Homo sapiens: one gene and its partners. The protein of the gene in region 4 purifies or fractionates together with the protein of the main gene of each other region. This does not show direct contact. Each region holds a gene or a part of one and is shown on either strand. Other genes may lie near its edges.

Region 1 (7,022 bases), on a different chromosome or scaffold from region 4:
AGATCACCTAAGGTCAGGGATTCAACACCAGCCTGGCCAACATGGCAAAACACCGTCTCTACTAAAAAATATAAAAATTTGCTAGGCCTGATAGCACACACCTCTAATCCCAGCTACTTGGGAGACTGAGGCATGAGAATCGCTTGAACCTGGGAGGCGCAGGCTGAAGTGAGCTGAGATCACACCACTGCACTCTAGCCTGGGCAACCAAGCAAATGAGACTCAGTCTCAAAAAAAAAAAATCAAAGCAATATACTAAGTAAATACATAAGGGTAATATATACTCTGCTTGTGACAAATGTTTTTTTTCCACTTTTTGGTAGAGACAGAGCCTCATTATATTGTCCAGGCTGGTCTCCAAGTAACTCCTGGCTCAAGCGATCCTTCTGCCTCCTCCTCCCCAGTAGCTGGGACTATAGGTATGTGCACCACGCCTGGCTTAAAAGTCTTTTTGGTATTTAATATAACAGCTTTGGAATAAGCAATTCCATCAAAACGTGCTGTTTTTCTTTTTCTTAGACAGGGTCTTGCTCTGTCACCCAGGCTGGAGTACAGTGGTGCTATCATAGCTCACTGCAACCTCAAACTTCCAGGCTCAAGTGATTCTCCAGCCTCAACCTCTGTAGTCTCTGTAGTTGGGACTCTAAGTGCACACCACAATGCCCAGCTAATTTTTTTTTTGCATTTTTTGTAGAGATACAGTCTCACTATGCTGCCCAGGCTGGTCTTGAACTCCTGGTCTCAAGTGATCCTCCTGCCTCAGCCTCCCAAAGTGCTGGGATGACAGGTGTAAGCGTTGGCGCCTGGAGTAAGAGGCTGTTTTTCTTGAAGGTTATTTTTGTTGCTACTTCCTGGGACTGACCTTTCCCCACGAGCACACTGGAGGTGACAACCGAGCAGTTCTGTGCAGCCACCAGAGCTGTGCCCTGCTCAACCCCTCAGATGCTATTCCAAGATGACGATGCCAACAGGATCCCCAGAGCTGGGCGCCAGATTGTCCTGTGACTCCAGGCTTCAAAGGGCCAACGCTGCTGGTCACTCTGGCTCCAGGGTCTCCCAGAATGAGCTCCTGGAAGACCCTCTGCTCTAAGCCTTCCCTCTTCCTCACTCTCAGGAGTTTGCACCCATGGCGGGGCTTGTGTTCTGTCCCAGAGATCAGAATCTCAGCTACCCTTCTCTTTTTGGTGGAAGCAAGGCCATGGGCCACTACTGCTGGATTCTGGCTTGTCACACGACATCTCCCTATCGCCGTGGCTGCGTGTGATTTGCAAGCACGTCCTGTCATTTCCATCTGTGGAGGAGCCATCCCTCTGCAGACCTGATGCTACAGAAGCACAACTAGCCTCCCATCTCCTACATTTCACAGCAGAATTTCACTTTAGTAACATTGTGTACATATCACAGAAAGCAACTATAGCTGAGTCAGTACAGCGTAAGGTTGCCTGATAAACTATTTGTCAAATTAGAAAGTAGGTGGAGGCCGGGCACAGTGGCTCACACCTGTAATCCCAGCACTGGGAGGCCGAGGTGGGCGGATCCTTTGAGGTCAGGAGTTCGAGACCAGCCTGGCCAACATGGTAAAACCCCGTCTCTACAAAAATTAGCTGGGTGTTGTGGTACTCACCTGTAATCCCAGCTACTCGGGAGGCTGAGGCAGGAGAATTGCTTGAACCCAGGAGGCAGGGGTTGCAGCAAGCCAAGATCATGCCACTGCACTCCAGCCTGGGCAACAGAAAGCGACTCCATTTCAAAAACAAAAAAAAAAGTAGATGGGTTTCACCTGAAATTTGTGTTGTCTTCCTAGGAGATAAAGTTCATGTGGAAACCCACCAAGTTGTTTATTAACTGGATTCAAATTTCTTTACAGTAACTTGTTTCTCTTCTTAAAATGGAGCTACAAGATTTTGGCAGGGAAGGTAAATTTTAGGGGAACTAGTTTTGCCTTTTCTATTAGCTGAACTTACCTTATAGTAGTACCATATGGCCACACCCCTAATTAAGAAACGGGGCTAGGCCAGGTGCGGTGGCTCACACCTGTAATCGCGGCACTTTGGGAGGCCAATGCAGGCGAATCACCTGAGGTCAGGAGTTTAGGACCAGCCTGGCCAACATGGTAAAACCCTGTCTGTACTGAAAATACAAAAATTAGCCGGGCATGGTGGCATATGCCTGTAATCCCAGCTACCTGGGAGGCTGAGGCAGGAGAATCGCTTGAACCCAGGAAGGGGAAGTTGCAGTGAGCCAAGATCGCGCCACTGTACTCCAGCCTGGCAACAGAGTGAGACTCCGTTAGAAAGAAAGAAAGAAAGACAGAAAGAAAGACAGAAAGAAAGACAGACAGAAAGAAAGAAAGAAAGAAAGACAAGAAAGAAAGAAAGACAAGAAAGAAAGAAAGACAGAAAGAAAGACAGACAGAAAGAAAGAAAGAAAGAAAGAAAGACAAGAAAGAAAGAAAGACAAGAAAGAAAGAAAGAAAGAAAGAAAGAGGGCTCTAGTCAATGGGAACATAAAACTTGAGGGTCCCGGAACAGCTGCAAGCCTTGATGACTTCTGTCCACCTACTCTAGGCCAAATGTGCACAACCTCGGTTGCCACCCAGCTCTCAGGGGTCATATATGCTGGGCAGTCTTGTGCCCACGTTGTTCCTACTGCAGGACACAAACCTAGTTTCACGATAGCAGGTAATTTCCTGGTTTATATAACACTTTGGATTTCTTGGATTAAAAAAAATCTAGTTTCTTTAAAAGAAAGTAGGTGCAGTGGCTCGTGCCTGTAATCCCAGCACTTTGGGAGGCTGAGGCGGGTGGATCGCTTGAGGCCAGGAGTTTGAGACCAGCCTGGGCAACACAGTAAACCCCATCTCTATAAGAAAAAAAAAAAAAAAAAAAAAAAGGTATAAAAATTCTGCTTTTAACATTTATCATTTCAGAAAAAAAAACTCCAAAATAAAAACAGGATTCCTAAATCTTACTTGATAGGAACATTCTTTTTTTTTTTTTGGAGACAGAGTCTCTCTCTGTTGCCAGGCTGGGGTACAGTGGTGCCATCTCGGCTCACTGCAACCTCCGCCTCCCGGGTTCAAGTGATTCTCCTGCCTCAGCCTCCTGAGTAGCTGGGATTACAGGCATGCACCACCACGCCCAGCTAATTTTTGTATTTTTAGTAGAGACAGGGTTTCACTATGTTGACCAGGCTGGTCTCCAACTCCTGACCTCGTGATTCACCTGCCTTGGCCTCCCAAAGTGCTAAGATTACAGGTGTGAGCCACCGTGCCCAGCCTTTCATCTTTCATGCAGCCAGTTTTAAACTCCTCTGCTTGGAAATTTGAACCCAAATCACCCTAGTTCTGCTTTAAATAATCACTGCTTTATTTTGACAATATCTATGAAGATGCTTCCTACCCATCCTCCCCGCTGCAAGTTCCTGTTTGACAACCTGTCATCAATCCAGTCACTGCTGTTTTTATTATCTTAATTTCTTCTTTTAATACCATGCCTCGGGGTGTACCTACCAGATGAGCTGATCGTTATAGAGAAAAGCAGTGTATTTGACTATATTCAGGCTTTCCTCCATTCTATTAATAAAGGACTGGATTTTCAAATAAGTCATTTTATCCAACGGGAAGAAGCTGATTCCACCAAAAATGTCAAGTAGGTCACATGACTGCAAATGTAGCGTTTGCAAATACTGTGGAAAAAAAATAAGGCATAAAATTTACTAATAGTACACTGAATATAATGCTCCTTGATAACTGAAAATAATCTTATGTCAGACTCACATTTATGGTACAATTACATACTAGCAAACAGCACAACAATGAGGCCGTGGTGAAGACATGGGTGACTGAGTGTCAACTCAGTACCAATTCCAAGATACAAAGTTCAAACTATCTACTTAATGTTTATTCAGTATTGTGTTTTACTGCTTTAAATTTATTTTTTTGTGACAGAGTCTTGCTCTGTCATCCAGGCTGGAGTGCAGTGGTGCGATCTCAGCTTACTGCAAGCTCCGCCTTCCAGGTTCACACCATTCTCCTGCCTCAGCCTCCTGAGCAGCTGGGACTACAGGCGCCTGCCACCATGCCCAGCTATTTTTTTCCATTTTTAGTAGAGACAGGGTTTCACCATGTTAGCCAGGATGGTCTCAATCTCCTGACTCGTGATCTGCCTGCCTCAGCCTCCCAAAGTGCTGGGATTAGAGGTGTGAGCCACCACGCCTGGCCAAAAATTTTTTTTTTTTTTTGGTATAGACAGAGTCTTGCTATGTTGCCTAGGCTGGTCTTGAACTTCTGGCCTCCGTGATTCTCGTGTCTAGGCATCCCAAAGCGCTGGGAATACAGGCATGAGCCACTGTGCCCAGCTAGCACTTTCAAGTATTTAATTCCTGGCCAGGCACAGCGGCTCGCGCCTGTAATCCCAGCCCTTTGGGAGGCCAAGGCGGGCACATCACTTGAGGTCAGGAGTTTGAGACCAGCCTCGCCAACATGGCAAAACCCCGTCTCTAATAAAATTACAACATTAGCCGGGCGTGGTAGCCTGTAATCCCAACTATTCAGGAGGCTGAGACAGGAGAATCACTTGAACTTGGGAGACTAAGGTTGCAGTGAGCCAAGATCACACCATTGCACTCTAGCCTGGGTGACAAGAGTAAGACTCTGTCTCAAAAAAAAAAAAAAAAATTAACTCCCTGCCTTAATGCTCTTCAAATTAGACTAACCTAATGAGGGATCTATCCATTAATACTACAGAGAGTGCCATCTTTATTTCCCCCCCGAGATGGAGTCTTGGTCTGTCACCCAGGCTGGAGTGCAGCGGTGCGATCTCGGCTCACTGCAACCTCTGCCTCTGGGGTTCAAGCGATTCTCCTGCCTCAGCCTCCAGAATAGCTGGGATTACAGGCGTGCGCCACCACGCCCAGCTAGTTTTTTGGTATTTTTTAGTAGAGACGAGGTTTCACCATGTTGGCCAGGCTGGTCTCGAACTCATGACCTCAAGATCTGCCCGCCTCGGCCTCCCAAAGTGCTGGGATTACAGGCGTAAGCCACCACACCCAGCCAAGAGTGCCATCTTATACTAAAATCATGTCTAAATGATATGTACTCAGGACAACAGTTCTATCCATATGTTGACGGGTAAGAGAGAAATGAGGACAAGAACAGAAACCAGGAGATAATATGCGAGTGGATAATTGTGGTCATTAAAATGACAAAACAACAAAGAAAAGTAATTCAGAGAAACAAAAAAATTCAAAAATAGCTATGAAAGCTGTTTTAGAAAGTCGAATTCAAAAATAGATACAGAAGGTATTTTCAGAAGAAAATAAATTGAGAATTGTTGCTTCAAGATAAACTAGGCTAGGCGAGTTGGCTCACGCCTTTAACCCCAGCACTTTGGGAGGCCAAGGAGGGAAGATCGCTTGAAACCAGCCTGGGCAAAACAGCCAAGACAAGACCCTGTCTCTTTGTTTCCTTTTAAAAAAAAAGATAAACTGAGCTTGACAAGGTAGGGTGAAACATGCAAAATTCAATTACAACGAAAGAGGACAGCACTTGGAACAAATCTCCCCAATCGCTAATCTGACAAAGTCTGTCAAGGCCAATAACTCTTACCTACATCAAGACAGTTTACGCCCGTTTAGTGAACAGAACCAATCCCTGAGATTGTGCAACTCCAATAATTAAGTTTTCCTTATCAACTAATCTATCACACAAAAGATGGCTGCTGAGTAAGCCCAGAAGGACAGATGCAGGTAAAACACAGGGAGGCCAAACGATGTCTCCAGGACCCTTTAAGAGCCCCGGGCAAACGCAGGAAGCTCTGCCTTACACCACAGCTGGAGGGAAGGTTCCAGAGCACACGCCTCATGCGTTTCCTCGCTGCTCCAGTTTTGCGACGGTCTGTCTCAGGCTCTTTGCCACTTTCAAGTTCTGGGTTTTTTGTAGATAAGAAACAAACTTGTCTGTCTATATTTCTCTAAAAACCTGATGAATGCTTAGTAAAGTTATAAATGAAATTCAAAATACTTACCCGATGGAAGAATTTCTCTAATCTTTCTTTCAGAAGCTTGACGCCTCCGTCTTCCATGGCTTTCAGAAATGTACCATTAAAAAGCTAGTGAGGTAAAAGATTGCAGAAAAAAAAATCAGTTTCCTATGCTCACTTTTTCAGTATAACAAGTTCTTTTTTTCCTTTAGATTATTAATTCAGCTCATTAAATCTCCCAGTTCTTTCCAACAGAGAATATTTACGTGAGAAAACTTGAGTTAAAAATGTAAGTTACAAAAAATACTGTTAAGTGATGCTGTTTTATGAAACCACCTAATTGCTCTAGGCATCTTTCAAAAATTTCAACTTACCCTTAAGTTTCAATTTACATACATAATATCACCCACATTTCTGTTTTTTTATTTTTCAGTGTTCTGTTAATAAATGGAATCACCAAACTTTTTATCCTTTTTTTTTTTTTTTGAGATGGAATCTCGCTGTTGCCCAGGGTAGAGTGCAGTGGTGCAATCACAGTTCACTGCAGCCTCGACCTCCAAGGTGCGAGCGATCCTCCCACCTCAGCCTCCCAGGTAGCTGGGACTACAGGCATGCACCATGATACCTGGCTAACTTTTATAAAATTTTTTTGTAGAGATGGGGTCTTGCTATATTGCCCAGACTGGTCCTGAATTCCTGGGCTCAAGCAATCCTCCCACCTTAGCCTCCCAGAATGCTGAAATTACAGGTGTGATCCACTGTGCCCTGCCTCACTGAAACTTTTAAATCATAAAATTATCTGCATTCTGTATGTTCCTTGAGCACATAGATACACTTTTTCATCAATGGGGACACATTCCTACTATAAGGCTGAGAAAAGAGAAGGGAGTTCAATACTTACTGAATAAATGTAGGCATAAACCTCACTACCTGTTTCAAAGGCCTCATTATTTTCTTCTCTAAGACAAATACAGAGTCACTTTGCAGTCATTTATAGACTTCTCTTTAAACAACCCTGGAGCCTAGAGATAGGGGTAAGTG
Region 2 (5,870 bases), on a different chromosome or scaffold from region 4:
AAGGCGGGCGTGGACGCTCCCGCAGCCGGCCCAGCATGGGCGGATTTGAGCAAATGCTGGGGTTGAGAGCTTTGGAGAGGGAGGTGGGGGTGGGAGGAGAGGCAGGAGCCCAGTTCTTCAGGGCAGGGAGGTGGGCAGGGAGGCTGCCAAGCAGCGTGGGTTTTATCCTCAGGAAGGGAGGACCCCTTGAAGAGCTCTGCGGGGGTGACGTGATGGGATCTCACTTGTGAAGCAGACTGGGGGTAGCTGGATGGGGAGGAGGGGCAGGACGGCAGGTGTGGGTGGGGGCAGCTGGACCTGGGGTGCAGCGGCCACAGGGCTGGAGCATTTGAGGGGGATTCTTGGGGATGGGGAGGCACCGGCAGGGACCCGCCAGGCAGGCAGCTGTCCTGTCCCCGCAGGTGCACGTTCATCGGGAACCAGGACACTTACGAGACCCACCTGGAGACTTGCCGCTTCGAGGGCCTGAAGGAGTTTCTGCAGCAGACGGATGACCGCTTCCACGAGATGCACGTGGCTCTGGCCCAGAAGGACCAGGAGATCGCCTTCCTGCGCTCCATGCTGGGAAAGCTCTCGGAGAAGATCGACCAGCTAGAGAAGAGCCTGGAGCTCAAGTTTGGTGAGGGTGGGCACCGGGGCAGGCAGGGGCCTGGCCACTGCTCCGGGCACCAGTGACACCCCCTCTCCTCCTGCTACTCAGACGTCCTGGACGAAAACCAGAGCAAGCTCAGCGAGGACCTCATGGAGTTCCGGCGGGACGCATCCATGTTAAATGTGAGCGGGCGGGGCTGGAGGGGCTGGGTTGTGAGACCCGGGGAGGCCGGCGGCCCCGGCAGGGAGGCCTCCCCTGGCCTTGCCTACACTAGTCAAGATCAGGGGTCTTGTGTGTGGCAGGGGCTGCTGTCACCCCTGCCCACCCCTGGCCCAGGGCAGCAGGGGCAGAGAGGCTGCACTGGCCCCACAGCAGCCCTGCCCACCTGCCCTCTGCCCTGCCCTTGGCCCTGCAGGACGAGCTGTCCCACATCAACGCGCGGCTGAACATGGGCATCCTAGGCTGTGAGTATGGACCCGCCGTGGCTCCCGCCCACCCTCCCCCCCGGGCCCCAACTGGGCCTTCACCCACTGCTCCCATCTCTGCAGCCTACGACCCTCAGCAGATCTTCAAGTGCAAAGGGACCTTTGTGGGCCACCAGGGCCCTGTGTGGTGTCTCTGCGTCTACTCCATGGGTGACCTGCTCTTCAGTGGCTCCTCTGACAAGACCATCAAGGTGGGCAGGGTCCTACCTCAGTCTCTGCAGCCTGGCTGGGCTGGGCACTGCCACATGCCTGGCACTGCCAGCCTGCCTATGGGTGGGACCTTCTGGGCAGGGCCCTCTCCCATGGGCGGGGCTCCCTCACTCATTCCTGTCATGCTGCCCCTTGACACTGGGCTGACCTTGCTGGGACCCACTGTGGCCCTGGTCTCTGCAGGTGTGGGACACATGTACCACCTACAAGTGTCAGAAGACACTGGAGGGCCATGATGGCATCGTGCTGGCTCTCTGCATCCAGGGGTGAGTCCAGGCACATGTGTGATCAGTGATTCCCAGGACAGGAGACGTGGCGCTGCCACCCCGTGGGCCGTGAGCCATGAGCTCGAGCCTGTGTAGCTATGTGTGTGCCCCACCTATAGGGCACCCTCCACCCGGAGCAGCACTGTTTCCTGGGTAGCAGTGTGTGGGCCCTTGTGTGGCCTACACCATCTCCAAAGTTGTGTGTTCCCAATACCTGGCGCAGCCAGCCTCCCAGCAGAACCTTGTCCTGGCCCAGGTGCACCTTGCGCAACCAGAAGATAGGGGGGACCTTAGGGGGTGAAGGCAGGAGCTCAGCTCTCCCCTGCCTGCAGCCAAAGCCCAGGGCATAGAGACTACGGAGCAACTACCTTGGCCACTTTCTTGCCTCCAGGTGGCCCGCCTGCCTCCTGTCTCCTATCGTGAGGCTTTGTGGGAGCGAGCAAGTAAGCGTGTGCGTGAGAGATGCTCGCTTTCAGGAGGCGGCAGCTTGACTGCCAGCAGCCGGCCCTGGGACTGACTCAGGGCTGACGGGTGGGTAATTACCTCCCAGCTCGCTGTCAAATGCTTTCCAGGCAGGCATCAGGGGCTGGCCCGCCCCTTCCAAGGTTCCCATGTGGAGACTGGAAAATAGGCTGACGCTTAAGGACACAGCAGTGGCCTTGGCCCTGGGCCATGCTGCTGGTTCCTGATGGCTGGCATGGACCTCGGGCCCTGCCAGGGCGGTGTCAGCATGGACACAGCTTCTCCCACCTTGACACATTGTCTCTGCTTCCCCAGGTGCAAACTCTACAGCGGCTCTGCAGACTGCACCATCATTGTGAGTGGGGCCTACAGGCGGGTGGGCAGGAGGCGGCCCAGGCCCGCCCCAGTCTGTAGGTGCCCCAGGGACGTGTTTCTCCCCGTCTGGGCTCCAGACTCCAGGTGGCAGGGCTTGGTGCCCTGAGGCTGCCGGTCCTTCCCCAATCAGGTGTGGGACATCCAGAACCTGCAGAAGGTGAACACCATCCGGGCCCATGACAACCCGGTGTGCACGCTGGTCTCCTCACACAACGTGCTCTTCAGCGGCTCCCTGAAGGCCATCAAGGTACGGGTGGAGGCTGTGCCTACGTGTGTGTCACTGAGGCGTCCCTTGCCCGCCCAGCCCACAGTTGCAGCAATCCCTGCAGGTCTGGGACATCGTGGGCACTGAGCTGAAGTTGAAGAAGGAGCTCACAGGCCTCAACCACTGGGTGCGGGCCCTGGTGGCTGCCCAGAGCTACCTGTACAGCGGCTCCTACCAGACAATCAAGGTGCGCTTGGGCACACCTGGTGGCCACAGGGCCTTGCCTCCTACCAGCACTTCCCAGGCCAGCACCTGGGGCTCCATCTGCCCTGTTCCTACCTTCGCACATCCCCTGGCTGGGTGGGTGGGCTGCCCAGCAGTGCTGAAGCCCTGGGGGTGCGGGGGCCCTGGGGGTGAAGCACCTGGCCTGGGACCAACTGGCCCACGATTACTCATAGATCTGGGACATCCGAACCCTTGACTGCATCCACGTCCTGCAGACGTCTGGTGGCAGCGTCTACTCCATTGCTGTGACAAATCACCACATTGTCTGTGGCACCTACGAGAACCTCATCCACGTAAGGCCTGGGCATCTGGGTGCAAGGCCAGACTGTGGCCCCGTCTCCCCCGCCTTGCTCAGTGTCTTTGACCTGCCTGTGCCCACCCCTCCCAGGTGTGGGACATTGAGTCCAAGGAGCAGGTGCGGACCCTCACGGGCCACGTGGGCACCGTGTATGCCCTGGCGGTCATCTCGACGCCAGACCAGACCAAAGTCTTCAGTGCATCCTACGACCGGTCCCTCAGGGTGCGTGCTGGCCCAGCGGTGGCAGGAGGCTCAGAGGGCTGGCAGCTGAGCTCCGGCGGGCCCTCACGTCCCATGTGCCCCCAGGTCTGGAGTATGGACAACATGATCTGCACGCAGACCCTGCTGCGTCACCAGGGCAGTGTCACCGCGCTGGCTGTGTCCCGGGGCCGACTCTTCTCAGGGGCTGTGGATAGCACTGTGAAGGTCAGTGCCCGTGGCTCAGGCCATTCAAAGGGGCTGCACAGGATGGAGCGGGGGTGGGGACGAGGAGCTGGCAGCCCCAGCACAAAGTGGTGGAGGGCAGGTACGTGTGGCAGGTGTGGCTGGGGCAGGGCAGCCGGCCGCAGGACATCCTGGTGAAGCAGCCCTTTCTCTGCAGGTTTGGACTTGCTAACAGGATCCAGGCCAGGCTGTGGTTTCCCCTGAACCAGCCCTGGACCTTTCTGAGCCAGGCTGGCCACATGGGGTGGTCTCGGGGTTTCTGCCTGCCCCGTGGGCATAGGTGGACAGGCTCTGGCAGCCGGGCAGTGCCCTCCCCGTCCCATGCTCGGCGAGCCTCCCTCTACTCGGCACTGTCCTTGCTGCCCAGCCCCTCTCTGGGTGCCAGGTACGACGCTTGCCCCGGCCCACCCTCCATCCCCACCCTCCATCCCCACCCTAGATGGAGCGAGGGCCTTTTTACTCACCTTTTCTACCGTTTTTAGACTGTATGTAGATTTGGTTACCTCCTGGTTGAAATAAATGCTCCACAGACTGTGGCTGTGAGTGGGGACAGCTCCTCGGGACAAGGGGGCTGTGTGTGGCCTTGAGGTTGGTGTGCACAGGCACTGGCTGCTGTGAGTGGGGGGGCATGGGGCAGTTTCCTTTGGTGGACCCCAGGACTTCGGCCCACTCCGGGGCCTCCCCTCCCTGCTAGGAGGCAACTCGTCACACCCAAGCTGCTGGCCTCCAGTCCCATCTCCCCCAACACATGTGCCCCCAAAAAGTGAGCCAGGCACCTCTGTTTCCTGCTGTTTATTGACAGCCGACGGCAGCGCCTTGCCCAGACCTCCCCTGCCCACCTGCTGGAGCCCAGCCTGTGCCGCCCTCTGAGGAGAGGCCTGGGGGGACAGCTGGGCACGTCCACTCGCAGGGAAACACGGGGTGAGACAGCAGGAAGGGGCCCTGCACGCCGGGACGCCACCTCCGCCAGCCGCCTCCACCCGCCCCACACCACAATCGCTGGTTTTCGGCATTTTTTAAATTTTTTTTTTAAGAAACGTCAAAGTTGTGCCCAACACTGTGGATCAGCAAACACGATAGAGGAGACCAGTCAGTACTTCTTGGAGGGGGCAGGAGGAGAGAGGAAAAGGGAGGGCGAGAATGACCACACAACACAGCCTTGGACCATGAGCAGAAGCGTCCGTGGGAACTCCACTGGGGTGGATGGGCTGCCTGCACAGCCCCTGGAGAGGGGGCCAGGCACACCCTCAGAGGAGCTGCAAGCCCGTGGCCTGGCCTGCTACATGCCCTGCTTCCACGTGGCTGCCACGCTGACACACCCACATTCACCAAACCCACCCGCGCCCTGGGACGCAGCCACGCCAGGAGGAGGACACGGCCGCCGAGAGCAAGGCACAACCTCGAGTTCTTGGGGCGCAGAGAACTTAGGAGAGAAGCACGGAGGAGCCCCCGGCAGAGCACCCGCCCCCGGGCCCCAGCCTTCCACCTGTGCTAGCAGCCTGGGGCCTCCACTCTGGCCGGAGGAAGGACCGCAGGCAGACAGCCTGGGCCTCTAACAGCTTTTGTCCGGAGCTAGACTTCGTGTCCTTTCAGTTGGTAAATGGTTTTCTATAGAATCAATAATATTTCTTTCTTTAAATATATATTTGTTAAAGTTATACCTTTTTGTTTCTCTGGGGAAATCCGCCTCAGCTCATTCCCAATAAATTAATACTCTTGATAGCTTATATTCTGGGGGTGCGGTGGGGCAGGGGGGCCCTGACCTTGGTCCCCTGTCCCTTGTGCTGCGCCCGAGCGGCTGGCCGGGCGTCCCGATGGGCAGTTCTGTGCTGGGCCCGGGCCTGTGCGCTGCCCCATCCCTGGTCCCGGGGCGCCCTCCCCTCCCGCGCGGGCAGGAGGCCCAGCAGGTATTGCACGGGGAGCAGCAGGTGGGGAGGACCCGCGGGCGCAGGGTCTGCCTAGAGCCCTTGGAGCCCCCGGCCAGGCGGTCCCCGGTGGGCGCCCCGGCCCGGGTCCAGGGGCCGGAGTTGTGCTTCTGCAGGGCCCTGCCCGGCCGCTCGCGCCGCGCCCAGACGCGCCCATCCTGAGGTATAGGTCAGTGTGCGGGGAGGGCCCGGGCGGCGCGGGAGGGCCCGGCCAGGCGGCGTTCACTCCAGCATGGCATCCAGCTGGTCGGCCAGGTCGTCGAACATGCTGCCGATGTCGTCCAGGATGCTGCCAGTGCTCTTTTCCGCCGCCGAGTCGCTGC
Region 3 (7,688 bases), on a different chromosome or scaffold from region 4:
ACAGCGGCCTACACCTGTAATCCCAGCACTGTGAGAGGATGAAGCAGGAGGATCACAGGAATTCGAGACCAGCCTCAGCAACACAGTGAGACCCCGTCTCTATTCCAATACATACATTTTTTAAATTAAAAATTCATTTAAAAAAAAAAAACTCAAGGGATGGATTACAGAAGGGCCCAAGGAAACTTTTCGGGGTCTGAACATGTTCATTGCCTTGATTGTGGTGATGGTTTCATGGGTGTATACATGTCAAAACTCACATATTGCATAATATTAAGTGTGTACAGTTTATTATGTGTCAACTATGCCTCAATAAAGCTGCTTTTAAAAATCTTTTTTTTTTTTTTTTTGAGACGGAGTCTTGCTCTGTTGCCCAGGCTACAGTGCAGTGGCATGATCTCGGCTCACTGCAACCTCTGCCTCTCGGGTTCACGTGATTCTCCTGCCTCAGCGTTCCGAGTAGCTGGGATTACAGGCACGTGCCACCACACCTGGCTAATTTTTGTATTTTTAGTAGAGACAGGGTTTCACCATGCTGGCCAGGCTGGTCTCGAACTCCTGATCTCAAGTGATCCACCCGCCTCGGCCTCCCAAAGTGCTGGGATTACAGGCATGAGCCACCGCGCCCAGTCTAAAAACTCTTTTTAAGTTAAATTCAGTACCTTCCCCCCACCCACAAACTTCTTAGAGCCCCCAATCTAGATTATCACGGGCTCACTCGTTTTCCACACCCAACCGACCCCCGGGTCTTACGAGAGACCCATCTTCCTAAGTATCCCTTGATTGCCTATGCAATGCCACTCTACACCACCAGAGCGCTGCTCTTCACCACACATGGCTCGCTGATTGCTACTCTCCATAGCATCCCTAACTCTGACAGGCTCCCAACTAAGCCAGCCTCCGTGCTGTGAACAGCATGATCTTGCCAAACACTGACATGATCATCCCACACCCCACCTGATAAGTTTCAATAAGAAGATAAAGCTCTAATTTCATAGGAGAATATGTAAGGTTCAAGCTGGCCCCTGCCAGTGGCCACACCACCACCATTTCCCCTTCCCTGTGGAGACACCCTATGTAACCTTCAGTTACACAGACCCAGAGTTCCCCAAAACACCATGCTCGAACCCCATCCATACTTTAAAACCTTGCTCAGGCCGGGTGCAGCGGCTCATGCCTGTAATCCTAGCACTGTGGGAGTCTGAGGCGGGCGGATCGTTTTGAGGTCAGGAGTTCGAAACCAGCCTGGCCAACACGGTGAAACCCCATCTCTACTAAAAATACAAAAAAAATTAGCCGGGCGTGGTGGTGGGCGCCTCTAATCCCAGCTACTTGGGAAGCTGAAGCAGGAGAATCACTTGAACCTGGGAGGCGGAGGTTGCAGTCAGCCAAGATCGCACCACTGCACTCCACCCTGGGGAACAGAGGGAGGCTCCCTCTCAAAAAAGGACAGTTTCTCATTAACACAGACCAACAGTAAAATTTTTTAAGTCACTACTGAATTGAGGGCCTACATTATACTTTCACCTTCTGTAAGCACCAGTGTTACAGTGGCCAGATAGCTTATCATCCAAATCGAGACACTTCTGAAAGTGAAAGGCCCTGCTGTTGATCATTAAACCTGTTCAACAGTGCGAACTGGGACTATGCAGTCACCTTAAGTATAGTGGAAGCCATGATTTTCTTGTATTATTACATGAGAAACAATGAATCTCCTCCACCTGCCACTCTGGAAAGACCTGGGCTAAAGAAATGAACGCCCTCCTCTGTGAACAAACCAGAAATGGGCACATCATCACGCTGACTTGTTAATTTCCAGTGCTAGGAAGTGGCTGCCCCACTTTTGAAGTATTTGGCTCCCAAATCAACTGCTCCAGATATTCCACTCTGACAAGAGGTGCTAGTAAGTGCCACGAAGACCCTCCCTACAGACAGGAATTCCATGTGCGCACACAGACTTCAGGCCTCTTAGGGCAGACCAAATGACAAAATTATAAAAAACCATTTGAATTAGAAAAACATCATTCTGTTTACATGACAAAATGATCTGAAAGTGTCTATACCATTACCTAAATGAGATGGGATTCCTATCATCTGGGCCTTTAACTACCACGCCAGTAGCTCCACCAGATCGAACAGCAAAAACCTGAGAGGGAAAAGCAGCAAGGTTAACAGCCTGAACTCTGAAAGGATCTAAACTCAGAAGCCAACCCGCAAGCGATTATTTCTGTTATACACCACCCTGGGTTCAACTAAAGTAACACGGCACATATCAAGGTACAGATGTTTGGCTGCTCAGGTGAATTTTAAAAACCAAGAGCAGAGAGCGAAAAGGATGCCACCGTGACACCGGGTCGGGTTCCCGAGGCTCCAAGTTCTAACACCGGTTCGCGCATCGGCGCCGCTGATACGCCTGAAGTACAGTCTTTTCCCCCTTTACAAAATTTCAAGGAAAATGAAAATCTCGACGTCTAAACCCTTGACTACGAGTGTAACTAATGACAAACACAACAAAAGAAGCCTAGATAAGACGGGCGCGCCAACAATTGAGACACTGGCCACGGGGCCACTGCATCCGCGCAGCTGGCTCGGGGGTCCAGCCCCGAGGTCACCTGCGAGGACACCTGGCCGCGGCTGAGCCCACCCAACAAGGAAGGAGCGCGCGCCGCCTCCCGCGCTGGGACGGGACGGGACAGGACAGGAGGGGACGCTCGGGCCTGGTCGCGCGGGACCGGCCTTGGCGCGCCCACGACCCCGGCAGGGCCGCGCGGGGGAGGAAGCGCGGGCGCGCCGGACCTGCTTGTTGGCCTCATCGAAGAAGACGCAGTTGACAGGGTTCGCCTTCTCGAACTGCACCGGCCGCTCGCACAGCTCCAGATAGTAGTCCTCCTCGCCCATGGCGGGCGCCGCGCCCGCGGCGGGGGCCCCGGGGGCGGTCGCCAGAGTGGAGCAGGATGCGCGGTGGAGCCCGGCCCGGACTGTAGCGGCGGCTGCGGCTGCGGCTCTGGGCCCGGCGCGGACGCCGCTTCCTGGTGCCACGCCCCCACCCCGCCCACCACGTGACCCGCGGCCCTCTGCGCTTAAACGGGCAGCGTCTGGCTGCGGTGGGGCCCACCGGCCTTAACCACGCCCCGCCCGGCGCTGGAGGCTCCTCCCCTCTCCCCGAGGGCGGTCGGAACGCGGCGGCGTGACCCGGAAGCCCGCGTGGTTCCCCGCGGACCGAGGGCGGCGTAGCCGCCAACCCTACCCTGCTGCGAGTTCCTGTGCCCGGCTCGGTCGCCCCTGCCCCAACCTGTACCCCCGCGTGGGACCGCTCCCGGTCTAGGAAAGGCTCCTCCTTGCTTTCGGGAGGATTTCCCAAGTGCCTCCCGCGCCAGAGTTCCAGCCTCTGGGAGCTTCGTCAGGGAGAAGGGGCTGAAGGCTCACTGAGCAGGTGTAGGGGCGCCAGAGACCGTCTCCAGTCCCCTCAGCGCTTCTGCGGGCTCTTCCGCTGGAGCCAGAAACCGAATTGACAAGAGGCAGATAAACAAAAGAAAAGCATACACACTTTATTAGTTTTTCATGGGGACCTTCAAAAGAGAGTGAGGTCTGAAGAAGTGGCCACAGCAAGATGCTTTTATACTTTTTAGACAAAGAATGATGCATTTGAGAAGAAAGCACAAAAGGCATCTGGCTGGGGCGATACATTTCTAAGAGAGTCACTAGGAGAAATATTGGGGAGGGTGTAAAATTAGTGGAAGGTAAGTGTTACTTGGGAAGTTCATTTATTCAGGTCCATTGCAGCCCCAACTCCCAGTCTCTGGTGATAAGGGCTATTTTCTGACCCGGGTACAGAGAGGGTGCCACTCCCAGAGGAATCTTTACTGCTTATTCCCTGTAGGAAACGACAGGTCATCTAGCCCTTTCTGAAACTACAATTTCTCCGGTGTTTTTAGCTCAAAATAATATACCAATTTTTGGACATATTTTGGGATAGCACATCCTTCACTCCTTGCTAGTAACAGGGAAACCTAATATAGATTGTGGGTCAGCAAGCCTTTTTACTTGATAAGAAACATGAAATTTACCATGTTAGCCCCTCTTTTTTTGTTTGTTTCAGAGACAGAGTGTCTCTGTGCCCAGGCTGGAGAGCAGTGATGCGAACACGGCTCACTGCAGTCTCAACCTCCCATCTCAGCCTCACAAGTAGCTGGGACCACGGGTGCATGCCACCACACCTGGCTCATTTTTTTATTATTATGCTTTGTAGAGACAGCGTTCTCTGTTGCCCAGGCTGGTCTCAGACTCCTGGCCTCAAGTGATTCTCTCGCTGACCGTGCTCAGCCCCCATGTTAACCCTTTATTTTTATTGTTTATTTTATTTTATTTTGAGACGGAATTTCGTTCTTGTTGCCCAGGCTGGAGTGCAATGGCCCTGTCTCGGTTCACTGCAACCTCCACCTCCCGGGTTCAAGCGATTCTCCCGCATCAGCCTCCCAAGTAGCTGGGATTACAGGCACCTGCCACCATGCCCAGCTAATTTTTTTGTGTGTATTTTTAGCAGAGACCGGGTTTCACCATGTTGGCCAGGCTGGTCTCCAACTCCTAACCTCAGGTGATCTGCCCACCTTGGCCTCCCACAGTGATGAGATTACAGGCATGAGCCACCGCGCCCGGCCCCGTGTTAACCCTTTTTGAGGTGTTCAGTAGTATCAGGCATATTCACATTATTGTGAAATACGTTTCCAGAAACTTTTTATCTTGCAAATCTGATTCTGTCCCTAAATTTGACTACTCTAAGTATCTCATATAAGTGGATTTTATAGTATTTGTCCATTAGTGTCTGGCTTCTTTTGCTTAGCAAAATATCCTCAAGGTTCATCCATGTAGCATGTGTCAGGATTTCCTTCCTTCATTAAGGCCGAAAAAGATTCCATTTTATGTATATAGCACATTTTGTTTATCCATTCGTCTGTTGATGGGCATGTGGGTTGTTCCCACCTTTGGCTGTTGTGAATAAAGCTATGCAAATATCTGTTCAATATTCTGTTTTTAATTCTTTTGGGTCTATACCCAAAAGTTGGATTACTGGATCATATGGTAGTTCTATTTCTCAGAGAGCTATTTTTGAGTGGCTTTGATGTCTGAGCCCAGGAGTTTGGTTTGGAGCATGTGAATCCAAGGAGAAATGACATCTAGGCAGATGGATATATTGGTCTGAAACTCATCAGAGGAGTGACAAGACTGGAAATGTAAGACTTCTACACTCAGCCTCACCCACCCAGGCCCATGTCACACATGGAAAAACCGATAACTCCAGAACCCTGCTCTCCAGCCACACAGTGCCATCCCTGCAGCTGGCTTGTTTAGCTGCTCCCTGTGACTCTTCCTCAACATCACCAGTTTGCCCTGTCATTGTTCTGTCCTCTCTACCCAAGTCTATCTGCCCTCTCCTCTCTTCCCTTCCCTCCTCATCAGCTTTGATTTCATTTCTCTGCATTCCAGTTATTTTTTGCCATTACCTTCAACATCCTTGCTGCACTGTTCTTGTCTGGCAGAGCCTCAGTCCTGGATGAACTCAGCCACCTGCTTTCCCAGTACCTACTGCTGGAGGGGTCACACAACAGGACAGAGGGCACTGCGGGAAATTCAAATGGGCCCTCAGCCCTGCCTGGCTGTCCCAGTCATTGTCTCTCCTGTTCTCTGCAAGGATATTTTCAGGCCTTCTTCACACTCCTCAGACTGTCTCGCCCCTATTTCCATGAACATCGAGGACTTCAGATGGAAACTGGGCTTCATACCAGTTGTGCAGCGCACCACGGCTGTCCTTCTAGAAAACGGTCCATCCTGCCCAAGGCCAAACCCTGTTTTTATTTATTTATTTATTTATTTATTTGATGGAGTTTTGCTCTTGTTCCTCTTGTTGCCCAGGCTGGAGTGCAGTGGCACAATCTTGGCTCACTGCAACCTCTACCTCTCGGTTCAAGTGATTCTCCTGCCTCAGCCTCCCGAGTAGCTGGGATTACAGGCATGCGCCACCACACCCGGCTAATTTTGTATTTTCAGTAGAGACAGGGTTTCTCCATGTTGGTCAGGCTGGTCTCGAACTCCCAACCTCAGGTGATCCACCCCCCTTGGCCTCCCAAAGTGCTGAGATTACAGGCATGAGCCACCGCGCCTAGCCCAAACCCTCTTTATTTTTATTTTTTCACAAATACCACAGTGACTTACCAGCACTTCTTTGAATTCCATCTTTCGGCTGGGTGCAGTGGCTCATGCCTGTAATCCTAGCACTTTGGGAAGCTGAGGCAGGTGGATCACCTGAGGTCAAGAGTTCGAGACCAGCCTGGCCAACATGGTGAAACCCCGTCTCTACTAAAAATACAAAAAAATTAGCCGGCTGTGGTGGTGAGTGCTGGTAATCCCAGCTACTTGGGAGGCTGAGGCAGGAGAATCGCTTGAACCCGGGAGTTGCAGGTTGCAGTGAGCCAAGATCGTGCCATTGCACTCCAGCCTGGGCAACAAGTGGAACAAGAGCGAAACTCCATCTCAAAAATAAATAAATACATACATACATACAGGGTTTGGCCTGTTTATATAAACAGGAGGCAGAAGTTGCAATGAGCAGAGATCACATCACTGCACTCCAGCCTGGGTGACAGAGCGAGACTCTGTCTCAAAAAAAAAAAAATTTAAAAAATTTAAAAAATGAATTCCATATTTCACCTTCTCAAAAAAACCTACAGTATTGACCATCCCGTTTCTCTCATATAGGCAACCTCTCCTCACTCCTGCTCCTAGAAGCAGCCTTTATATTTGCTCATCTCTCCCATCATAAAAACAAAACAAAAACAGAACTGAAAACACAGAGGACTTCCCTAAACACACGTCCCTGTCTGGCTATCACTGCCTTCCTCTACTTCACAGTGAACAGGAGTCAGTCTTGACCCATCCCCACTCCGACCCCTCATGCCCAAGCAGGCACAGGCCATCAGCTTAGGTACAAGTTTAGAAAAAGAGACTTCCAAGAAAACCCAAGCTACTCCACAGAAGTGCATATTTCGAACATGACCCCACAGGAATGTCTGCCAAGGACAGGGCAGCAGTGCAGTGTGTGCGCGTGTGTGCGCGTGTGTGTATGCGTGCCTGTGTGCGCATGCATCACACTTAAAAAAGACTATGGTCTTTTTATGACACCAGGCATCTCGTCCTTCCCAGAGAATTCAGTTTGGTTGACTCTGGCAGATGTTTTTGTCCTAAGAGCCAGGCTTGATTGTTGTGCAGTTCGCCTTGGGTCTGCAAGCAGCATTGAGGTCTGCCTGCATGTTATGGGTTGAAGTGTGTCCCCCCAGAATTCAGATGTTGAGGTACTAACCCTTAGTATTTCAAAATGCATCTGTATTTGGAGATAAGGCCTTTAAATAGGCCGTTAAGGTAAAATGATGGACCCTAATCCAGTATGACTGGTGTGTTTATAAGAGAAGATTAGGACCTAGACACACAGACTGAGGGGCCGCCCATGTGAAGACACAGCAAGAAGGCGCCACCTACAGGCCAAGAAGAGCTGCCTCAGAGGAAGCAACGCTGCTGGCACCTTGATCTAGGACTTCTAGCCTCCAAAACTGTGAGAAAATAAATGTTTTCAACCTCAGTCTGTGGTATTTTGTTGTGGCAACCCAAGCAGACTAATACACTGGCCATGGGCAAGA
Region 4 (7,898 bases):
GGAGCTTGGAAAAGGGGCCCGGGGCCAAGGGACTGTCGCTTTCCAGGTCCTCGCAGGTTACCCGCGAGGAGGCCCCTGGCAGCTCATAGCCCTGCGAGAAGTCCACCTCCGGGCCCAGCGGGAGGCTCTGCAGCTCTCCAGGCTGCAGCGGGGAGGGGTAGTCCCCGGCCTCAGGGCTCGTGTGGCCCTGGTAAGTTTGGAGAGGCTGCAGGTCGAGGCGCGGCGGGGAGGCGTGCGGCGCTTCCGTGTGCTGGCTGCCCAGAGAGCCGCAGACAGCGGTTAGCATTGCCGGGATCCGGGGTGGGGTGAGGGCAGGGACGGTCAGGGGCACCTCAGACGGGACCTAAAGGAGGCGAAGAAGCAGAAAAGTAAGGGAAATAACCAGCTCACTTTCCCTCCTAACCCAGGTCCTCCTCTCTGGCCCCAGGTGTAAAAGAAGGATGCACCTCTGAACGAGGACTAGAGATGAGTTTAGAGAATTCGGGAGTGCGAGGAAGGGTCCAAGATGTGAGGTTCTCATCCAAGCACAGAGGATGATGGAGGTCTACCTTCCTCTGGGTGATCCCTGCCGTATGACCCAGCTCATCCCTAGAGTTGGGCCACTCCCAGGATGGTAGGTCAGATACACCTACAGCACAGTGCTAGAACCATCCCCACCCCAGCTGCCCAGGCCAACACAAGGGGCAGTGGCATTTTCCCCCTGCAGACCTGCTGTCAGCCCAAATGGAGGATCTAGACACATCTCAGCTTCCCCAGTTTAACTCAGGATACAGATGGGAGAGGGGATGGTCTATTTCTGAAACCCAAAGCTTCAGGTGACCTGCCCCTCATAAAGCCTCAAACGGGTCCTGAGTCTTTGAAAGAGTTCTCATGCCATTCCCAAAGCATGTTCAGTAATGAAAAGCATTTCACCGTCTACGCTGCTCCCCGCCTGGCCTGGTCACATCGGGCCCACTAAACCGACTCACATGCCCCCACCCCCTTCCCTCAAGCAGGGACTTCACCTCCCTGGGGAGCAGCTTTCTGGCCACCAGATACCCCTGGAATCTGGGAGATACCCCCACCAGAGAAAACCAAATTTCCATCCCTCTCTTGACTCATACCAGTGCCAGGCAACTCTCTGACTGCTACCCATCTTCCTCTCCATGCTAGGGGAGGCCCAGATAGAAAGTTGGGAGGGAATGGCTTCCCCAGAGAAGAGCTTGACAGCAAGCTCTGGAAGATACAATTGCACCCCTTTAAGTGATACAAGGTCAGAGTGCAGGAAGAGGAGGGCAACAAGAGAAGTCATAACCACAGAACCTAAGAGCAAGAATTGCCCAAAAAGATGACATAAGCAAGTGCATCCTAGGCATGGATCATTTTTCAGAAGCTCCCCACCACCACCAGAAGATTCTTATATGCAGCAAATGTTGAGAACCACTGCTCCAGGCCAATCTTCTTATTTTGAAGAGAAGGAAGCAGACTGAATGACTTGGCACAGTGACTTGGACAAGGATGTTCATTTATTCATTCAATAAACCAGGTCTCCTAACTCCTGGACTCTCAGTCTGTTACTTTCTGTAAACCAATCTTTCTGTAGACCCTTAGAACGCTAAAGACCCCCAACGCTTTCTCAACCACATATCTGTGGCTTGAAGTTCACTCTTTTCTCACCACCTCTCCCTAAGGCCTGGAAGCCCTGGTGCCTCAGCTGGGCAGGTTTGTGTGCCTGGGTCTTCTCTACTGGTGGGGGAGGAGACCAGTGACTTAGGGCAGGATTGTTTCCTTCCTACAGCAGGGCTTAGCTGACCCTACCATCTCCTGCCTCTGGGACCAGGGAGGTGGCACTGATAGCCTGGGAGAGGGAGGGAGAGGAGGACGGGGGCACCTACTCAGGCTCCGGCTGCCTCACCACAAGAGGAAAACAGGGTGAAGTTGCAGGAAAGGAGCCCCAGGCCGGGGTGGGGCAGCACAGAAGGGGCTGAGCGGGAGCTGTGAAGCCAGGGACCCTAACAGCTTTTGGTGCCTGGGAACTGCCCCAGGGGCTGGAGGATGGGAAGGCTAGGATAATCTGGGCTCCAGAGTGGCTTCTCCTGGCAGAGAGCTGGAGAGCCCAGGCCTGGGATGCAATGGCCTGCTACCAAGATTTCAGAAACCCAAAGCGGGGTGATTCTCAGGTTCTAAGACCAGTCCCACTGGGTGGAAAACTGCCCTGGAGCTGGCTCAGTCTAGCAGAAGATGCAAGACTAAGACCCAGGAGAATAGAGGAGGGGGCAGGTCTTGGGGGTGATATGGAGCCACCCTTAGGTGGCAACCCTTAGGTTGCCTCTATGGTCCTTGACCCACCTGCCCCAGAGCTGAGAGGAAAGAAGGGAACAGGATTGAGTGCCAAGTATGTGTCCGGTTCACTTCCAGGCCTAGAAAGAGTTCAGGAAAGGAGAGAGCACAGCGTACATCGCAGGCTTCTCGCTCCCCGAAGTGGGAAGGCAAGTCGGTGCACCCTTATGCCCCATTCGGCTCTGCCTCTCTGGATCACCGGCTAGTACTCCCAGTTCTCAATGTCCCGGTCCTCTGGTTGTCCCAGTCGCTCCAGTTGCCCCGGTTTCCAGCCTCCTCGGTCCCTCCAGTCTCTCCCGTCCGCCCAGTTTTCCCTCCATCGGGGTTCTAACCTCTCAGATCCTTTAGGACCACCCCGCTCCCAAGGCCATAGGAGGCTGGGGCGCGTTCGGAGTGCGTTTTTTCGAGACAATCTCCGTAGCGCTCACCCCTGGCCACCCCGACCCGCGCTCCTACCTCGAGGCTGCGGCGGGCTCCGGGCACGGCTGGCTGGTGCGCTACTGACGGTCGCTCATAGGCCCTGTGCGCCGGCGAGCTCTCCAGCGGTAAGGGGCAGGAGCCCAGGGCGAGCCAGACCCGGCGGCTGGCGGCAGGCGGCAGGCGGCGGAGGTGAGCGCTGGCGAGAGGGCGGAGGACGGAGGGCGGGCAGGAGCCAGCGAGCGAACAAGGCCAGCTCCGCCCGTGACTCACCCGCGCTCTCTGCCTTCATCCTCTCCCCAGCGCTGCTTTTTCCCCCGGACTCGCGGCCCCGCCCACCTCACCTGCGGCCGCCTTTAACCCTTGAGGGCTCGGCTGGACCGGAGCCCAGCCAGGGCCGCGAGGAGGGGGTGGGCGGGAGTGGGGGAGGAAAGATAACTAGGGCGTGCGCCGCCCGCTCCCTCGCTCCTCCCTGGTCCCCTCCACTCCCAGGGAGAGGGGCCCGGGTGGGGTGATTCCCAGGTTCTAAGACCCGCCCCGCCGGGTGGAAAACTGCCCTGGAGCTAGCTCGGTCTAGCAGAGGACGCAGGACTAAGACCCAGGGGGAATGGATAAGGGGGCAGGTCCTGGGGGTGAGACAGAGCCACCCTTAGGCAGCAACCCTTAGGTTGCCTCGATGGCCCTTGACCCTCTCTGAACGGACAGCCCTGCCCCGGAACTGGGAGGAAAGAAGGAAACAAGATTGAGCGCCAAGTATGTTTCCAGTTCGCCTCTAGGCCTAGGCCGTGTGAAATTTGTCTTGGCTGCCCTCCTTCGCCATTCCCCCGACCCCCGACCCCCGTCCCCTGCCCTGCCTCACCCCCCGCACCCCGCGCCGCTTCTCTCCACCACCACCCTTCCCCGTCCTTTTTTCCCTCTCCCTTCCGGGGTATCCCTCTCTGACCTTTCTGGGTGACCACCTCCTCTCCTCCCCTCTCCCAGCCTCTGCCCACCACCGGTCTCTGCTTCCCCCCTACTCTGGTCCCAGGTCCCAGCAGCTGTCACTCTGCCCCTCCCCTTAGGTAGCAACCCCAGTGCCTAAGAAATCCACCTCTCAAATTCGCCTCTCCTCGCCCTCCTGTCCTTCGGGAAATGCTCAGCCTACGCACACCCTCGCCCCCGAGCACCCGGTTCTGAAGAATGGGCAGGCGCCTGAATGGCCCTGGGAAGGGACACTTCTGGAAGGAATTGAGCTATCCCTTGCCACCATTCCTTTCTAATTCTCACCAGAATAACTAAACCCAAGGTTCTTAACTTTGGGGAGGGGTCTTGGATTCCTTTGAGAAAAATTCACATGCCCAGTGCAATATTCTGGTAAAATTTCAGCGCGCTCGCGGAGCTCACAAAAACTTCCCTCAAGATCTGGATGGGTCGACATTTCCGAGACCCGCAAAGCACCGGTGGGTAGGGAAGTTCCGTCCTCCACCCACGCATTCTTCTGCCTGGCCGCTGAGGTGGCCCCATGCTTCACTCCCATGCCGCAGTGTTGATCTCTCCATGTGACCCCTTTTTTCACAGGGGAATGCAGATTAATTTCCCTATTTCTTTCATTTTTCAGATTCGTCTCCTCTGTGCGCTTTGCCGTCGGCTTTTTAAAATTTCGTTTTCCTCTTTACAGTCGATTTCATACTTGAATTTAGGCTGATTTAATCTCGCCTCTACAGCCCCTACTCCCCCCCGCCATTGGTTTACCTGTCCTGCATGCCCGTTTGGGACACACTCAAACTGTAACTCAAAAATAGCTAAACCGAGTGCATAAGCGGGGTGAAAATCAATCCATGTGTGTATGCGTATGTGCATGGTACCCCTCAGACACGCACACGTTCTTATCCAGAATCGACGTCGGATTCATCTGTGCATCTCCCTCTTTTCTAAGGCTCATTTCCCTCATCCGGACAACCTGGGTACACATTGGTAGGGTCTCCTGGGGGCTTAAAGGAATTGATATGCCTAAAAATGCTTAGCCCAAGGGGCCCCTGGTAAGCGCCGGGTAAATGGAAGATATCCTTGTTATAATTATTAAATAAGTCAGTTCCAGGTAAATATTGGTTGGATTAAGGTGTATGCACAAAGACCTGTGGACTAGAAGTTGACGGATTTAAATTCTAGCCCCAGCCCTGCACTTGCTAAACTGACCCTGGCAGGTCAGGTGCCTCTAAGCCTCAGTTTCTTCCTTGGTGAAATGCTGTAAAAGCAGCCACCAAGCTAGAGAAGTGACAGGTATTTGGAAGCCGGAGATGCCGCCTGACATCGGGGGATTGAGATTTCTGATCAGTCGGGGTTTGCTTTTTGCCTTCTTGTTACTTGGGGCTCTGGATGTGGATTCACAGGAACTGCTCTGGATCTTTGTGGCCATGGCTAATTTGACAATCAATCCTCTTCATCAACGCAGCTTTGTCTCCATCCATTCAGCCTACAAATCCTGGCCAGTTGGGTTTGTATCCTAGTTCACAGCTACCTCTGGAATGGAGTAGACACTCATCAGGTCCAAAACAGAGCCCCCAGTGGGGGACTCTGGTTCCTGATTTGACCTCTGGGCATTCCTGCCTCCTCCTCCAAGCTGCCTGCTGGTGCTGCATCTACTGTTCCTAAGGTGCTAAAGCCTGTGCAGGGGTCTGACTCTGGGTAGGGGACCAAGTTCCCCTCCCATTTATAGGCATCAGATTGCCTTCTCTTCCTGGCCCCTTCTGCCTTTTCCCTGGAAAGCAACAGGGATTCAGCCCGAGGATGGTAGACACTCCCTGCTACTTTCACTCTAGGCCCCCTTTAGCCCTGCCCCGATCCAACCAGACCTGTAGCCATCTGGAATTCCACCAGCAAAGACCCTCCATCTGCCTGCAGCTCATCAGCAGGAAATTCAACAACAATGCAGTTGTCTCTGGAAACTCCCAGCCATTCTGATTTCCTGCTCTGCCTAGGTTTCTGCTGCTCACTCAGGGTACTGGCACTATCTTTCCTCCAGTCCCCCTCTACTTGCAGTCCTCTGCTTCCAGCCCTTTTGGTTTCCCACTTGCTAAATGTTTTCCCACCGAATGACGGCGCATGGTCTGATGTTAACTTAATGAGCAAGGTCACCACAGCCCATTGCCCATATACTTATTGCTACTCAAAATTGAACAACACAGCCCATCACATCTCCTGTATAAACTGAGATCTGTCTTGGACTTGGGCCATTTCTGCTGCTCTTCCTCATTCTCTCAAATAAATAGTCAGATTTCCCCTGCAAGTGTCCAACCCCCATTCCTGCCACCCCTCTTCTTCTCAAGCTTCATCTATAGTCAGTGATCCACTTTGTACCTGGAGAAATCTCATTAGTCTGCGTGTTTATCACAAACGGCATTTATTTACTGAGCACCTACTATGTTCCAGATGCTTTACACAAATATCTCTAATTCTCATGGGCATGCAGCAAAGTAATTATTATTATTCCCGTTGTACAGATGAGGAAGCCAAAGATCAAAGAAGTTAAATGATCTACCCAAGATTACAGAGTTGTTAAAAGACAGAAGAAGAAACTGAGTTCAGATCTCTCAGGTTCCAAAGCCTGTATTCTGCCTACTAGTCCATCTGGCCTCAATATGGCAGAATTGATGACCCTGGAAGTCTGGCTCCCCTAGAGCCTGAAGGTGGAGGAAACAGCATTCTTAAATGAATCCCTAGATCAAAGCCATCTCCTATCTTGAGTCTAATGGACAAACTGATCCCATCTTGAATTGCTGAGACAAGTCAGACTCTACACTTGTGATCCCTTCCAAACTTCAACTGTCCTGTAGAGATTGCACTATGAGAATATCAAAGCTGGTCTAGCCCCAAATTGTCTCGTCCAAGCCCTCGTTTTACTGGTAGGGAAACCAAACCCCAAAACAGGGACGTTAGTAGCAAGTTAGAAGCAGAGCTGGGACCAGACCAGAGTCTGGTCCTGTTTTCCTCTTCTCACTCACTCCTCTCCTCCATTTCCCACTCCCACCTTCGGGCTGCACTTCCAAGCCTGCAAGCTGATGACCCTGGATGCCAACATATTCCTTATTTCCCCTCCTCTCCCCACCATACTCTCCTGATTCTTAGAAAACCAGATAGAGCCTAAAGCTGGGGTCAAATAGTTTTCTTTCATTCATCCTTTATTTCATTCAACAAACACTTATCGAGGGTCTACTTAAGGCCAAGCACAATGCTGGACACTAATTTTATTATAAATTTCAAAATCCCTAGCTACCACCATCGCTTTTCAGTCTAGAAGATGAACCCACCTGAGGATAGTGCATCTGTATGTCGGTGTGTGTATATCTACAAATGTGTGTACATATTATGCCTGTGTGTACCTGTGGGCTTGAGTGTAGGGTGTCTTCTCTCCTCCACCGTAAATGCAGTTCCCCATAGGATGTGGATAGTGGTTTCTCCCTTACTATCCTTGCAGGTGTTCTGTCATTCAGGGCAGTGAGTGTGTGTGCCCTGTATTTCTATTAACATTTATTTGCCCTTCCTTTCTCTCGAAATAAAGTTCCCAGCTATGAATCCCTACCCCACTTCTCCACTGGGCTGACTACCCCAGCCCAGTCAAAAGACCTCCAAGGGATCCCTTTAGTTCTCCATGCAAACCCCACCAAGATCTCCCTCTTATCTCCCCCTTCCCAATTCAGAGAGAACCAGACCCTTCTCTATGACCCCCACTTTAGAGTGGAGACCTGATCCTCTTTGTGGAGGTCCCCTGTACTGGACAGGGAACAGCCTCTCTTACCAGTCCATGGAGCCCAGAGCTGGCGGCGGCAGTGAGGGCCAAGTGGCGGTGATAAAAGAGCCAGGCTTTATAAAGGAGGTGACAGGCAGTGCCAAAGGGGGAGGTGAAGGAGGGAGCAGGGATGCTGCCAAGTCCTCACGGCCTCAGAAGCTTTTAGGATAATCCAGGAAACAGTGGCCCCCAGCTCTCCTAGGGGAGTGGTAGGAGGTGAGATCTGAGTCCGTGAGGTCTGCCAGGAAAGGAGGATTTCAGCTGGGAGTGGGGGCTGGGGGCACTTCCTTCCTTCCGCAGAGTTGGCTGGGCAGTGGGAGAGGGACAAAGTGGTTCTTGCAGGATGGAGGAAATGACAGCATTGCTAGGGTGGAGAGCTGGGATAGCTGGAACTCTC

What was found.
Region 1: the proteins of SP6 (region 4) and CCZ1B purify together in Homo sapiens (co-immunoprecipitation; 2 studies listed by IntAct). This does not show direct contact.
Region 2: the proteins of SP6 (region 4) and TRAF7 purify together in Homo sapiens (affinity purification with mass spectrometry; 3 studies listed by BioGRID and IntAct, with this or other methods). This does not show direct contact.
Region 3: the proteins of SP6 (region 4) and RMC1 purify together in Homo sapiens (affinity purification with mass spectrometry; 3 studies listed by BioGRID and IntAct, with this or other methods). This does not show direct contact.

What each region holds. Positions count from the first base shown.
Region 1 is NC_000007.14:6,816,255-6,823,276, forward strand, and holds part of CCZ1B (vacuolar fusion protein CCZ1 homolog B), read right to left. Parts: intron 6,111-7,022; coding exon 6,027-6,110; intron 3,688-6,026; coding exon 3,512-3,687; intron 1-3,511.
Region 2 is NC_000016.10:2,172,781-2,178,650, forward strand, and holds the end of TRAF7 (E3 ubiquitin-protein ligase TRAF7), read left to right. Parts: intron 1-401; coding exon 402-619; intron 620-700; coding exon 701-774; intron 775-1,007; coding exon 1,008-1,056; intron 1,057-1,140; coding exon 1,141-1,268; intron 1,269-1,470; coding exon 1,471-1,553; intron 1,554-2,330; coding exon 2,331-2,370; intron 2,371-2,520; coding exon 2,521-2,637; intron 2,638-2,719; coding exon 2,720-2,842; intron 2,843-3,053; coding exon 3,054-3,173; intron 3,174-3,268; coding exon 3,269-3,400; intron 3,401-3,484; coding exon 3,485-3,604; intron 3,605-3,779; coding exon 3,780-3,794; 3' UTR 3,795-5,349; downstream 5,350-5,870. Other genes in the region: CASKIN1 (caskin-1), read right to left, coding at 5,770-5,866. UniProt on the Homo sapiens protein: E3 ubiquitin and SUMO-protein ligase that plays a role in different biological processes such as innate immunity, inflammation or apoptosis. Potentiates MAP3K3-mediated activation of JUN/AP1 and DDIT3 transcriptional regulators.
Region 3 is NC_000018.10:23,498,829-23,506,516, reverse strand, and holds the start of RMC1 (regulator of MON1-CCZ1 complex), read right to left. Parts: upstream 3,007-7,688; 5' UTR 2,899-3,006; coding exon 2,797-2,898; intron 2,147-2,796; coding exon 2,070-2,146; intron 334-2,069; exon of another isoform or gene 1-333. UniProt on the Homo sapiens protein: Component of the CCZ1-MON1 RAB7A guanine exchange factor (GEF). Acts as a positive regulator of CCZ1-MON1A/B function necessary for endosomal/autophagic flux and efficient RAB7A localization.
Region 4 is NC_000017.11:47,848,144-47,856,041, forward strand, and holds the start of SP6 (transcription factor Sp6), read right to left. Parts: upstream 3,021-7,898; 5' UTR 2,776-3,020; intron 344-2,775; 5' UTR 287-343; coding exon 1-286. UniProt on the Homo sapiens protein: Promotes cell proliferation. Plays a role in tooth germ growth. Plays a role in the control of enamel mineralization. Binds the AMBN promoter.